Linked DNA regions of Homo sapiens: regions 1, 3 and 4 are each linked to region 2. The links come from fine-mapping of genetic effects on gene expression. A gene starts in region 2. Each other region holds a variant in brackets. All regions are shown on one strand. Distances are from middle to middle. Region 1 overlaps SPG11 (SPG11 vesicle trafficking associated, spatacsin). Region 2 holds the start of PATL2 (PAT1 homolog 2). Region 3 overlaps PATL2 (PAT1 homolog 2). Region 4 overlaps PATL2 (PAT1 homolog 2).

What was found.
Region 1: its variant is fine-mapped to the expression of PATL2 in whole blood (INTERVAL, PIP above 0.99).
Region 3: its variant is fine-mapped to the expression of PATL2 in whole blood (TOPMed, PIP above 0.99).
Region 4: its variant is fine-mapped to the expression of PATL2 in whole blood (TOPMed, PIP 0.94).

The regions. Positions count from the first base shown.
Region 1 is chr15:44,602,867-44,605,366 of GRCh38, reverse strand. All of the region lies in intron 20 of SPG11 (SPG11 vesicle trafficking associated, spatacsin), which reads left to right. Among named protein-coding and RNA genes, the nearest start is that of SPG11, 60 kb to the left of the region's middle. The variant G/A (reference allele first, on the strand shown) is at 982.
Region 2 is chr15:44,709,631-44,712,362 of GRCh38, reverse strand. PATL2 (PAT1 homolog 2) reads left to right here and starts at 1,040. Exons shown (of 18, transcript NM_001387263.1): 1 at 1,040-1,343; 2 at 1,434-1,492; 3 at 2,149-2,267. It overlaps B2M (beta-2-microglobulin), which reads right to left and starts at 846. Exons shown (of 4, transcript NM_004048.4): 1 at 750-846. The coding sequence starts at 816. RefSeq lists an enhancer at 363-1,025.
Region 3 is chr15:44,665,740-44,668,488 of GRCh38, reverse strand. PATL2 (PAT1 homolog 2) reads left to right here. Exons shown (of 18, transcript NM_001387263.1): 15 at 7-147; 16 at 1,286-1,383; 17 at 1,948-2,097; 18 at 2,518-2,749. The coding sequence ends at 2,536. Among named protein-coding and RNA genes, the nearest start is that of SPG11, 3.5 kb to the right of the region's middle. RefSeq lists an enhancer at 1,401-1,500. The variant G/A (reference allele first, on the strand shown) is at 1,555.
Region 4 is chr15:44,678,536-44,681,284 of GRCh38, reverse strand. All of the region lies in intron 3 of PATL2 (PAT1 homolog 2), which reads left to right. Among named protein-coding and RNA genes, the nearest start is that of SPG11, 16 kb to the right of the region's middle. The variant A/G (reference allele first, on the strand shown) is at 1,529.

The DNA of each region.
Region 1 (2,500 bases), 110 kb after region 2:
AAAAATGAATTTCTTAATGTATGTGTTTTATAAGTTCGAATTTTGATATATAGAATTTACCTCGTGCCCAGAGTCCAATGCATGCCAAGCCTACAGTAGATGTTCAGTAAATATTTGTTGAGTGCTGAAAAAAGTAGTGCTTATTGCATTATCAAATAGAAATACTCTTTCTCAGTGAAGTTACTAGAGAGTAGACAAAATACCCTCTCCTCTTGTGATGGCTCCAACTCCATCACTTAGGTGGCATCTTGACCTGGCATTCTAACTCTTGGAAATTGAGCACTCTGCCAGGTAGAGTAGAGGCACAGAGAAGTTGAAAGCATGTTCCCTGCTGTTTTTAGAAGTTTAAAACATACTTGAGGAAATAAAGCACAAAGTAAATGAAACTGTTATGAAAATGTAATACTTTTTTTTTTTTTTTTTTTTTTTTTTTTTGGAGATGGAGTCTTGTTCCGCCCAGGCTGGAGTGCAGTGGCACGATCTCGATCTCGGCTCGCTGCAAGTTGTGCCTCCCGGGTTCATGCCATTCTCCTGCCTCAGCCTCCCGAGTAACTAGGATTACAGGTACCCACCACCACGCCTGGCTAATTTTTTGTATTTTTAGTAGAGGTGGGGTTTCACCGTGTTAGCCAGGATGGTCTCGATCTCCTGACCTCGTGATCCACCCACCTCGGCCTCCCAAAGTGCTGGGATTACAGGCGTGAGCCACCGCACCCAACCAATACATATTTATAAAATTGGAAACCTGTATTTAATTTGAATGTTGACTTCTTTTTTCTTATGGTTTTACCACTGAACAGGGATGTAAGAACACTGTGTGGTGACTTGGCTTCTGCACCAGGCCAGAGTAAAATTTCCCTCTAGAATGAATTTTCTCTTATACGCAGTCTCCACACTAAGCCCCAACGTGCTAAAAAATTATGGTCTTATTTGAATAAAAAACTCAAATGTGCTCATTTCAGTACTGTGTGCCTTACAAAC[G/A]CTCAGCAAATATCTAATGAATGGCTTTATATGTAATTACAAGTTGTCAAAGTCGCTCTGTTCTCACAAGAATACAAATAGGGCATGTGACAGTTTTTTTAATCTCAAAGAGGGAATGTACTTTCAGGTAAGACCTTTGTAAGATGACAGATACCTCCAGGGTCTTCAAGCCTTTTTTTTTTTTTTAGGAATCAGGTCACAATGTGAAAAGTCCTTGGAATTCCATGAGAAAACACAACTTTATTTCAGAAATAAGCTTTGAACTTTGAAAACAAGAGCAGGTACACTGTTTTCCAGAACTAGTTTCTGGAACCAGATCACAGTGTTGTCTTTTTTAAAAAATAGGTAGTAAGTGGTTAAGAGACAATTGAATAGTACGTGACAGGAGTGACTATTTCTTTCTAACTGGAGTCAGCCCTCCATATCCTTGGGATCCACATCCAAGGATTCAACCAACCTCAGATGGGAAATATTCAAAAGAACAAACAAACAATTTAAAAAAAAGAAAAACAATAGAACAATTAAAAATAATACCAATTTAAAAATACAGTATAACAACTATCTACATGGCATTTACATTTATTGGGTATTATAAGTGATCTAGAGTAATCTAAAGTGTATGGGGAAATGTGCATAGGCTATATATAAATACTATGCTATTTTACAGGGACTTGAGCATCCTTCTGTGGATTTTGGTATCCAAGGGTTTCAGGAACCAATCCCCCATGGATACCAAGAGATGACTAGACTCATATCAAAATATCTTCTGACTTCAAATTTATCTAAAAAAAGACATTTTTGTTTGATATTTTCTTGGGTTTAGAGGAACTTTAAACTGAGCTATTCTGCTGGTCTTATTAATAGAAGGATGGTGCCATCTTTCTAAGATATTCATGCTCTATGAATACAACATCAGAAAGTAAGTGATAACAAATGGAGGTTATAGGAGGGTAATTAGTGTAGAGGGAAAAATGTTCTAAAATTACCTGTTGGAGGCCAGGTGCAGTGGCTCATGCCTGTAATCCTAACACTCAGGAAGCTGAGGTGGAAGGATTGCTTGAGGCGAGGAATTCAAGACCAGCTTGGACAACATAGCAAGACACTGTCTCTACAAAAAATTAGCCGGGTATAGAAGATAAGGGTCAAGAAGGTGAAAGAAAAATGTTAAAATTAGCCAGGCATAGTTGTGTGTGCCTACAGTGCTACAGGAGGCTGAGGCAAGAGGATTGCTTGAGTTAAGGAAGTCAAGGCTGCAGTGAGCTATGGTCATGCCACTGCACTCCAGCCTGGGCAACAGCAAGACCCTGTGTCCAAAAAAAAAAAAAAAAAAAATTGCCTGTTGGAGAAAGGTACAGTGAGTTGGCTTTGGTGAACAGAGGACTCATATAAATATGTTAAAAGGGATTTTATTGCATAATGACCTTTTGTGAATGAATTTAAAAGCTCCTTTTGCAGTTATTTAAAGACTTTACAACTATAGGGTTATTGGCTATTGCCTTTCTGAACTTAAAGGATCATC
Region 2 (2,732 bases):
AAAATTAAATGACGCAAAGCACATAAAGTCCTTGGCACACAGAAAGATGTCAATAACGGGTAGTTCTTATAATTTTTTAAAAGTGACATGTGATGGGAACAAATAAGTTAATTATTCGAAACCGCTTTGTATCACAGCCAAGCATTCTACAAACGTCGCGTGCTGTTTCCTCCCCACGGTGTGGCCCCACATAGACCCAGAGGTGCTAGGACATGCGAACTTAGCGGGCGCCTAGACGAAGTCCACAGCTCTCCAGTCTAAGGGAAGCAGAGCCGCAGCAGACAGGCTTACCCGGGCGACGCCTCCCCCAGACCCCAAGCGCCCCTCCACGCGTTCACAAACCTCAGCGCCGCGCCTTTGGGACGAGCCTACCCGTCCCCCACTCCAGCTGCGCTGGGGGAGCCAGAGGCCCCGCGAAAGAGCGGAAGAGAAACCCTCCCCCAACCTCGGCGCTCTGACGCTTATCGACGCCCTAAACTTTGTCCCGACCCTCCCGTCGCCGTAGGCCAAAGGTCTCCCCTGCTCCCCGCCGAAAGGGGCAAGTAGCGCGCGTCCCGGGTGCGCACCCCCTTCCCCACTCCCAGGCCACCCCGCCGCTTCCCCGAGATCCAGCCCTGGACTAGCCCCACGGCGGGCCACCAAGGAGAACTTGGAGAAGGGAAGTCACGGAGCGAGAGAGCACAGCGAGGGCCACAGAGGGTGCAGAGCGGGAGAGGAAGGACCAGAGCGGGAGGGTAGGAGAGACTCACGCTGGATAGCCTCCAGGCCAGAAAGAGAGAGTAGCGCGAGCACAGCTAAGGCCACGGAGCGAGACATCTCGGCCCGAATGCTGTCAGCTTCAGGAATGCCCGCCAGCGCGACGCCTCCACTTATATTAAACGCGTGCCCAGCCAATCAGGACAAGGCCCGCAGGGACCGTCACCTGTCTCCAAGCCAGCGACGCAGTGCCAGGTTAGAGAGAGGGACTTTCCCGTTTTCAGTTTCCTTTTCTTAGAGTCTCGTGATGTTTAAGAAGGCATGCACTAGACTGGGTGAGTTTGCTGTCTGTACATCGGCGCCCTCCGATCTGGGGTGCGCGCCCCAGCTTGGGACACCGGGCGCTCATTCTAGGACTTCAGGCTGGAGGCACATTAAGGCTGCCCCCTCGCTTTGCAGACTGGCCCCAGAGATGCTAAGTGACTTGCTAATGGTGCCCCAGCCAGTTAACTGCTCGGACCTGCATTTTTCATTCGAGAAAACGGAAACCCAGAAGATTAAGATCTTTGAATGCTACCTAGCAGAAGGAGAACTTCTGTTTATAACTACAGCTTGGGAATTCCCTGCAGGGTTTCTCCATTCTCTGGGTAAGAAAAATAGTCCCAAAAGCATCCTGAGGACAGCTCAGAGAAGGTCCTAGTGAAAGAGTACCTTTCTTGCTTCTTGTATCCCTTCAGGAAAAAGTGTTTGGAAAGTTCTGTGCCAAGAAGTTCCTCCCTATGTCCTTGCTGTTTAGGTAATTTTCTTTGTTCTGTTGATTTGTCGGGGGGCGGGGGGGAGAAAAAAACGACCACTAATAGTAAAAGCAGTAACTGCTAGGGCTTTAGAGCTTCCAGCGCCCTCTAGGTACATCATTCTCTTAGTTTCCACCCTAGAACAGGGGCTGGCACATAGTAGGTACTCAGTAAACCGAATGAACGAATGGATGGATGAATGAATGAATTAGTGAATATATAAATAAACTGTAGGAGGAAAGAATTACCCCCATTCATTTTATGGACAGGGGAAACAAAGGCTAAGAGACTAGAATTCAAACTCTGGCCTGATTCCATTGACATTAATATTTTAGACACTGGAAGACAAAGGGCTCGGCAATTTTAGTGAGAGTTTGGACTGCATCTGCCTTGGACCCAGCCAAGGACGTTAAACATGACAGGCAGACCCATTAAGAAAACCTACCCTCTAAAGTGACCATAAATAAGGTGCCGCCATTTCGTGGTGGTGGAGTCCACAGATCTTTTCTAAGAGGAACAGTGAGAAGAGGAAGTGGACCATGGCGATGGGGAGGGGCAGAGATCTTGGAAGTCACCATGGTTTTCAGTTGAAAGGATTTGCCTAGCTTCCCCAAGGAGCACAACAAATAACTTCTAGGTTTCTTTTACATATTTTTAGGCTTTTGATAATCTTTATTGTGGAGGCCATGCCTAAACTAAGAAAATGCAATACTCTCCATGGACCTAATGAAATGAGATAATGCACAAGAGAGAGCCTCCCACAATGCCTGGTACATAGTAAGTGTTCTGTAGTGTTTAATAAGCGCTATAATTATTAATATTATTTACCTAGTTTTTCTACCAGCCCTCTCAATAACTAAAATATGAGAATAATTGTTATGCCTAAATGTATGAGTTAAGACACTCTTGCTCCCTCCCTTTTCCCCCTTTTAAAAACTCATATAAGGCACTAAAGGCCTGAAATGTTAGTGTTGAGTTGTACTAGAAAAGTGCCTTAGAAGTTTAGCAAGGGACAGGGCTATTTTTGCCTCTAGTTTCTTGTTTACTACATCACAGAGAAACACTAAATTTAAAATCCATTACAGATAGATTCTGATTTACTCACTTGGAAAACCAATTTAAAAACCAATAAAAAACAGTACAGATAGAAAAAAGTCGATTTTACAGTTTTCTTTGGGGGGGAATACCTGTATTTTTCTTGGACTTACCATTTATGACATGTTTTGAATAGTGAGGGGGAAA
Region 3 (2,749 bases), 44 kb after region 2:
TTGCAGGCCCTACAAATGTTATTCAAACCTCTGGGCAAATGTATTAGTCACTTGACCCTCCACGAACTCCTCCAAGGACTTCAGGGATTAACGCTGTTGCCACCTGGCTCCTCAGAGCGGCCAGTCACCGTGGTGCTTCAGAATCAGGTAACATGTCTAGGAGGCTTTTTTCCATAGATGGCTTTCAGGTTGGTATCACTGATAAGGGGTAAGTTGGGGGACAGTCTCATCTCTACACAAATCTTATCCTCTGCAGTGCTTCTCTATTTCTAGTAAGCACATGATCACCTGGAAGCTTATTAAACCCAGCTCCTTGGTCCCACTCAGTCATTCAGTAGGTCTGGGGTGGGGCCCATGCACCTGCTCTGCTTTTCTAATAAGCTCCCTGATTGCTGCTGATGTGAGTCTCTAAAGCAGGTCTCCAAACTCTTGTATACCCCTTTCAGTAAAAAAATATTCTAAACCACACTACCCATGTGTTTATAAATCAAATACATGTAACACTAGTAATAATAGGTACATAATAAATATTTTCTTTTTTTATTTTTTAGATAGTCTCGCTCTGTCACCCAGGCTGGAGTACAGTGGCACGATCTTGGCTCACTGCAAGCTCTGCCTCCTGGGTTCACGCCATTCTCCTGCCTCAGCCTCCCAAGTAGCTGGGATTACAAGTGTTCGCCAACACACCCAGCTAATTTTTGTATTTTTAGTAGAGACATGGTTTCACCATGTTGGCCAGGCTGGTCTTGAACTCCTAACTTTAAGTGATTCGCCTGCCTCGGCCTCCCAAAGTGCTGGAATTACAGGCATGAGCCACTGCGCCCAGCCAATAGGTATATAATAAAAGACAGAAAATTTTAAAGAATGAGACTCTAGATGTGAAAATTTTGATGCTCTCTTCTAATATCCCAGTGGGTTATCTCATGTATGCCATACTGAAGGTCTTTGCTTAAAGAAGTGCCTCTTAAAGTGGGGTCCACAGACTACCTGCCTCAGATTCCTGGATGCATTCCCGATCTCCTACTCCTAGGAGTTAAGCCTAGAAGTATGCATTTAATCAGCTCTCCAAGAGTGTCTTTTGGAAAAGTTCAGAGCAGTGATTCCTATGGAAAGGGTTAGAGAGTTCTTTGGCTCACCAGTGTAAAACCTGACAGCACTTGTGGATATTTTGAGCTCTATCTCTAAATGTGAACCTGTCCTTTAGTTGGGAAGATAAGAGTCAGGAAAGCACCAAATGCCGAGTGTGAACTCATTTTGCTCTGGAATATATATATGTCCCTTGCAGTTTGGAATATCTTTGCTCTATGCCCTGCTGAGCCATGGGGAGCAACTGGTATCGCTGCATTCTTCCCTAGAGGAACCCAACAGTGACCATACAGCTTGGTAAGATCATAAAGGCCTTGTAAATACTATCTAGTACCCTCGGGATGTGCAGACTGAGCCAGGTGAAGTATTTCCTGAGGCATTTTCAAGTACTGAGGAAGAGGTTGGATAGAGAAAGTAGTAGCAGTGTTGTAGCTGTTCTGCTTTTTTTCTATAGTGCCCTAGAGTTTC[G/A]GTTTCTTCTAGGAGGCAGTATAACATAGTACCTAAGGGGACAAGCTTTAGATTTTAAAAAGACCTACGTTTGAATTCTGGCTGTATCACTTACTAGCAATATAACTTTAGGGCAAGTTCTTTCACTTCTCACTTCTCTTAGTTTGTTTCTTTATCTACAAACTAGGGATGATGGTATTAACCCCTCATAGTTCTTAAGATTAAATAGGAAGGGAAATGTGTAAAGCACTAAGCATTGCTTGGCACGTACCAAACATGCAAATGTTACCTCTGAATTGCTACCTGGGGGTGGGGGACAATGGTAGTAGTAACGGAAAGATAATAAGAAACCTTGGCCCTGAGTCTGTTTCTTAAGCAAATCTATTTGCTTATATTTATATTTATGCTCTCTAGGACAGACATGGTGGTTCTGATTGCCTGGGAGATAGCCCAAATGCCTACAGCCTCTCTGGCAGAACCCCTAGCTTTCCCCAGCAACCTACTTCCCCTGTTCTGTCACCACGTGGACAAACAATTGGTTCAGCAGCTGGAGGCCAGGATGGAGTAAGTAATGGCAGAAACAAGGTCAAAGCCCCTTGTTCAAGCCCAATCTATGTTCTGTTACTTGCTTCACTACTTCCTTCTTCTAAATTATGAGCATGAAGGATCATGTGTTTTTAGAAGTGGTTCTACACACTGACATTTACTGAGTAACCATTCTTGACTAAGTCTTCAGCCAACCTTTTATTCCAGGTGCTTTGGTCATTTATAGTGCTAACCTATTTGAGGGCAAGAATTAATTTAAGAACCTGAATTATTCATTCAAGAAATACTTGAGGGACAACTATTCTAGGATATAAGCATGAATAACATGGTCATCTCTGTCCTCAGAATTACTGCTAGAAAGAGTCAGATACTAATTAAATCATATAAATACTTGCAAAGTAGAATTGTGCTTGCAGTTAATATCTGTTCTCTTTATAGGTTTGCCTGGATTTACTGATCTGTTTGTTCTGGAATACGTGTATGTGGGAAGTTGAATCATCAGACACTAGCTACATAGACTATGTTTACAGGGATCCAGAGAGTCTGAAGACATTTCTTATGCCTTTATATATTGGAGAACCCTTCCCCATTTTCATATCCTTTCTTCAAAAATCTAAATGATGTGCCTAAAAATAAGACATGGCATAATAAGGTATAATTAAAGAGATAA
Region 4 (2,749 bases), 31 kb after region 2:
CACTTTGGGAGGCCAAGGTGGGAGGACGACTTGAGCCCAGGAGTTTGAGACCAGTCTGGGCAAAAAAGCGAGACGCCATCTCTATAAAAATTTTAAAAATTAGCTGGGTGTGGTGGTGTATGCCGTAGTCCCAGCTACTTGGAAGGTTGAGGCAGGAGTCCAGAAGTTCAAGTTTGCAGTGAGCTATAATCGTGCCACTGCACTCCAGTCTGGGTGAAAGAGCGAGACCCCATCTCTAAAACTAAAAAGAAAGAAAGAAAAATCACTGGTAATGGTATTGAGAAAAGTCTCTGCGGAGTAACTAGTAATGTTAGCTCCAGATATACTTTTTCAAGCCCGAGAATTATATAGGTGGCATCTAGGTGGAAGTAAGGGTAGGGGACTTGTCTTGACCCTGCATTTGCAGAGAACTAATACGTCAAATAATTGTCAATTGTCCAGAAAAAGTGTTGAAGGGGCTTATGGAGATTATGTCTGTTTGTCCCTGTTGCCACCACTATAATGGAGTCAAAAGCCAGAAAGCAACAGTTGAAGGAATGATGTGAGGAAATGGAGAAGTTTGGTTTGTTAGGTAGGAGAGACCTGAAGGGCAGTTAAAATAAGAAACAAAAACAAGACAGGGATTTGTCTCCAAGAAGTGGACACATCCTGATATTTCTATCCTATACACTAAGAAAAAGAAAGGGGAAAACAGAGAGGCTCAAGACACAGAGAAAAGTGGCTGAAGGGCCAAGCATCCAGGAAGAGAGTCTGGACTTGAAGAGGAGGAGAGCCCCCCACCTGGAAGTGCAAGGTGGGGGGCCTGTGGCTGTGTATAATTTCCTCCAAGTATGAATTGAAGTGGATCAGCCCCAATGGCCTCTATTTTCCCCATAACATAAGAGGTGAGGTTGACTGCTGAGAGTAGAGATGGGAGTTGTATGGAAGACTGGAGGAGGACAATGCCTATTTTTTAGAATCACTGATGAGGGATGTATGGGAAAGGCAGCTAAACAAGGACAAATTAAAGAACAGCTCAGCAGGCTGGTGATGGAGCAGTGTCAGTCATGGTCCCGACAAGAAGCAGATGGCACATTCAAGTGGTGTAACTGAGGAGCATGTCAGGAAGAGAATATTCACCAAGGTGTGAACAGGGTGAAGGGAAACTCATAAAGGCCAGTGAAGCACCCTGGAACTAGCAAGAGTGGGGAGCCTTTCCCACCCCCAGACCTCAGGGGCAAGAGGAGGGAGCAGATCCCAGATCCAGAGGGAATTGGGGTAATTTAGGAGAGGGCTGCCACACTGGAACTCATACAGCACAGATGCTGACATTATCTGAAGCCAGGCAGCCCTCTCTGTCTCCAGGTTCTGGTGACTGCTCCATCCTCTTGTCCCAGTCCCAGGGGATTCTGCTATTACTTGTGGTTTCACTATACTCTTTCTATACTTTTATAAATATAACTTTATTAGATTATCCAGTTTGAATACACCATCTATTTCCTGAAGGAAACCTGACATACATGGTTCTTTAAAAAGACTAATAAAATAG[A/G]CAAACTCTAGAAAGAAGAACAAAGGAGGAGATGAATAATATTAGGAATAAAAAGGGAGACAAAGGGCCGGACGCAGTGGCTCACGCCTGTAATCCTAGCACTCTGGAGGCCGAGGCAGGTGGATCACTTGAAGCCAGGAGTTTGAGACCAGCCTGGCCAACATGGCAAAAGCCTATCTCTACTAAAAAAAAAAAAAAAAAAAAGAAAAAGAAAAAGAAAAAAAAAATTGGCCAGGCACGGTGGCTCACGCCTGTAATCCCAGCACTTTGGGAGGCCGAGGTAAGTGGATTAGCTGAGGTCAGGAGTTCAAGACCAGACTGGCCAACATGGTGAAACCCCTTCTATACTAAAAATACAAAAATTAGCCGGGCATGGCACACCCCTGTAATCCCAGCTATTCAGGAGGCTGAGGCAGGACAATTGCTTGATCCCAGGAGGCAGAGGTTGCAGTGAGCCGAGATGGTGCCACTGCACTCCAGCCTGGCTGACAGAGCAAGACTCTGTCTCAAAAAAAAAAAAAAATTAATTGGCCAGGCATGGTGGTGTGCACCTGTATTCTCAGCTACTCTGGAGGCTGAGGCAGGAGAATTGCTTGAACACAGGAGGTGGAGGTTGCAGTGAGTTGAGATCGTGCCAATGCACTCCAGCCTGAGTGACAGGCAAGACTCTGTCTCAAAATAAACAAGTAAATGAAAGGGGGCAGGAGAGACAAAGTACAGTTATAGCATGGATTTTTAAATACACTTATACTATGAACAACTTTATGCCAACAAATTTGAAAATTTATAAGTAATGGACAAATTCCTAGAAGATATATAACTTAAAACTCAAGAAGAAATTGAAAGCCAGACTAGATCTACTGCTATTAAAGAACCTGAAACAATGGATAAAAAATCTCCCCATAAAAGAGTGTTTTATGTAGCAAATGTAAATATTTCTAATGTCATTTTTTTTCTTTAAGAAAAAATTTTTAATAGAGATGGGGTCTCACTATGTTGTCCAGGCTTGTCTTGAACTCATGGGCTCAAGCTATCCTCCTGCCTCAGCTTCCCAAAGTGCTGGGATTACAGGTATGAGCCACTCTAATGTCTTTTTAAAATCTGACCCAACAATCCTGTGTACCTGTGTGTACTTCTTATTCTAGAAGAAGCTCTAACAGGCTGTGGGAAGCATCTGCTTTATTCACTGTTTACCCCAAGCCTAACATAGGCTTGGCTTGA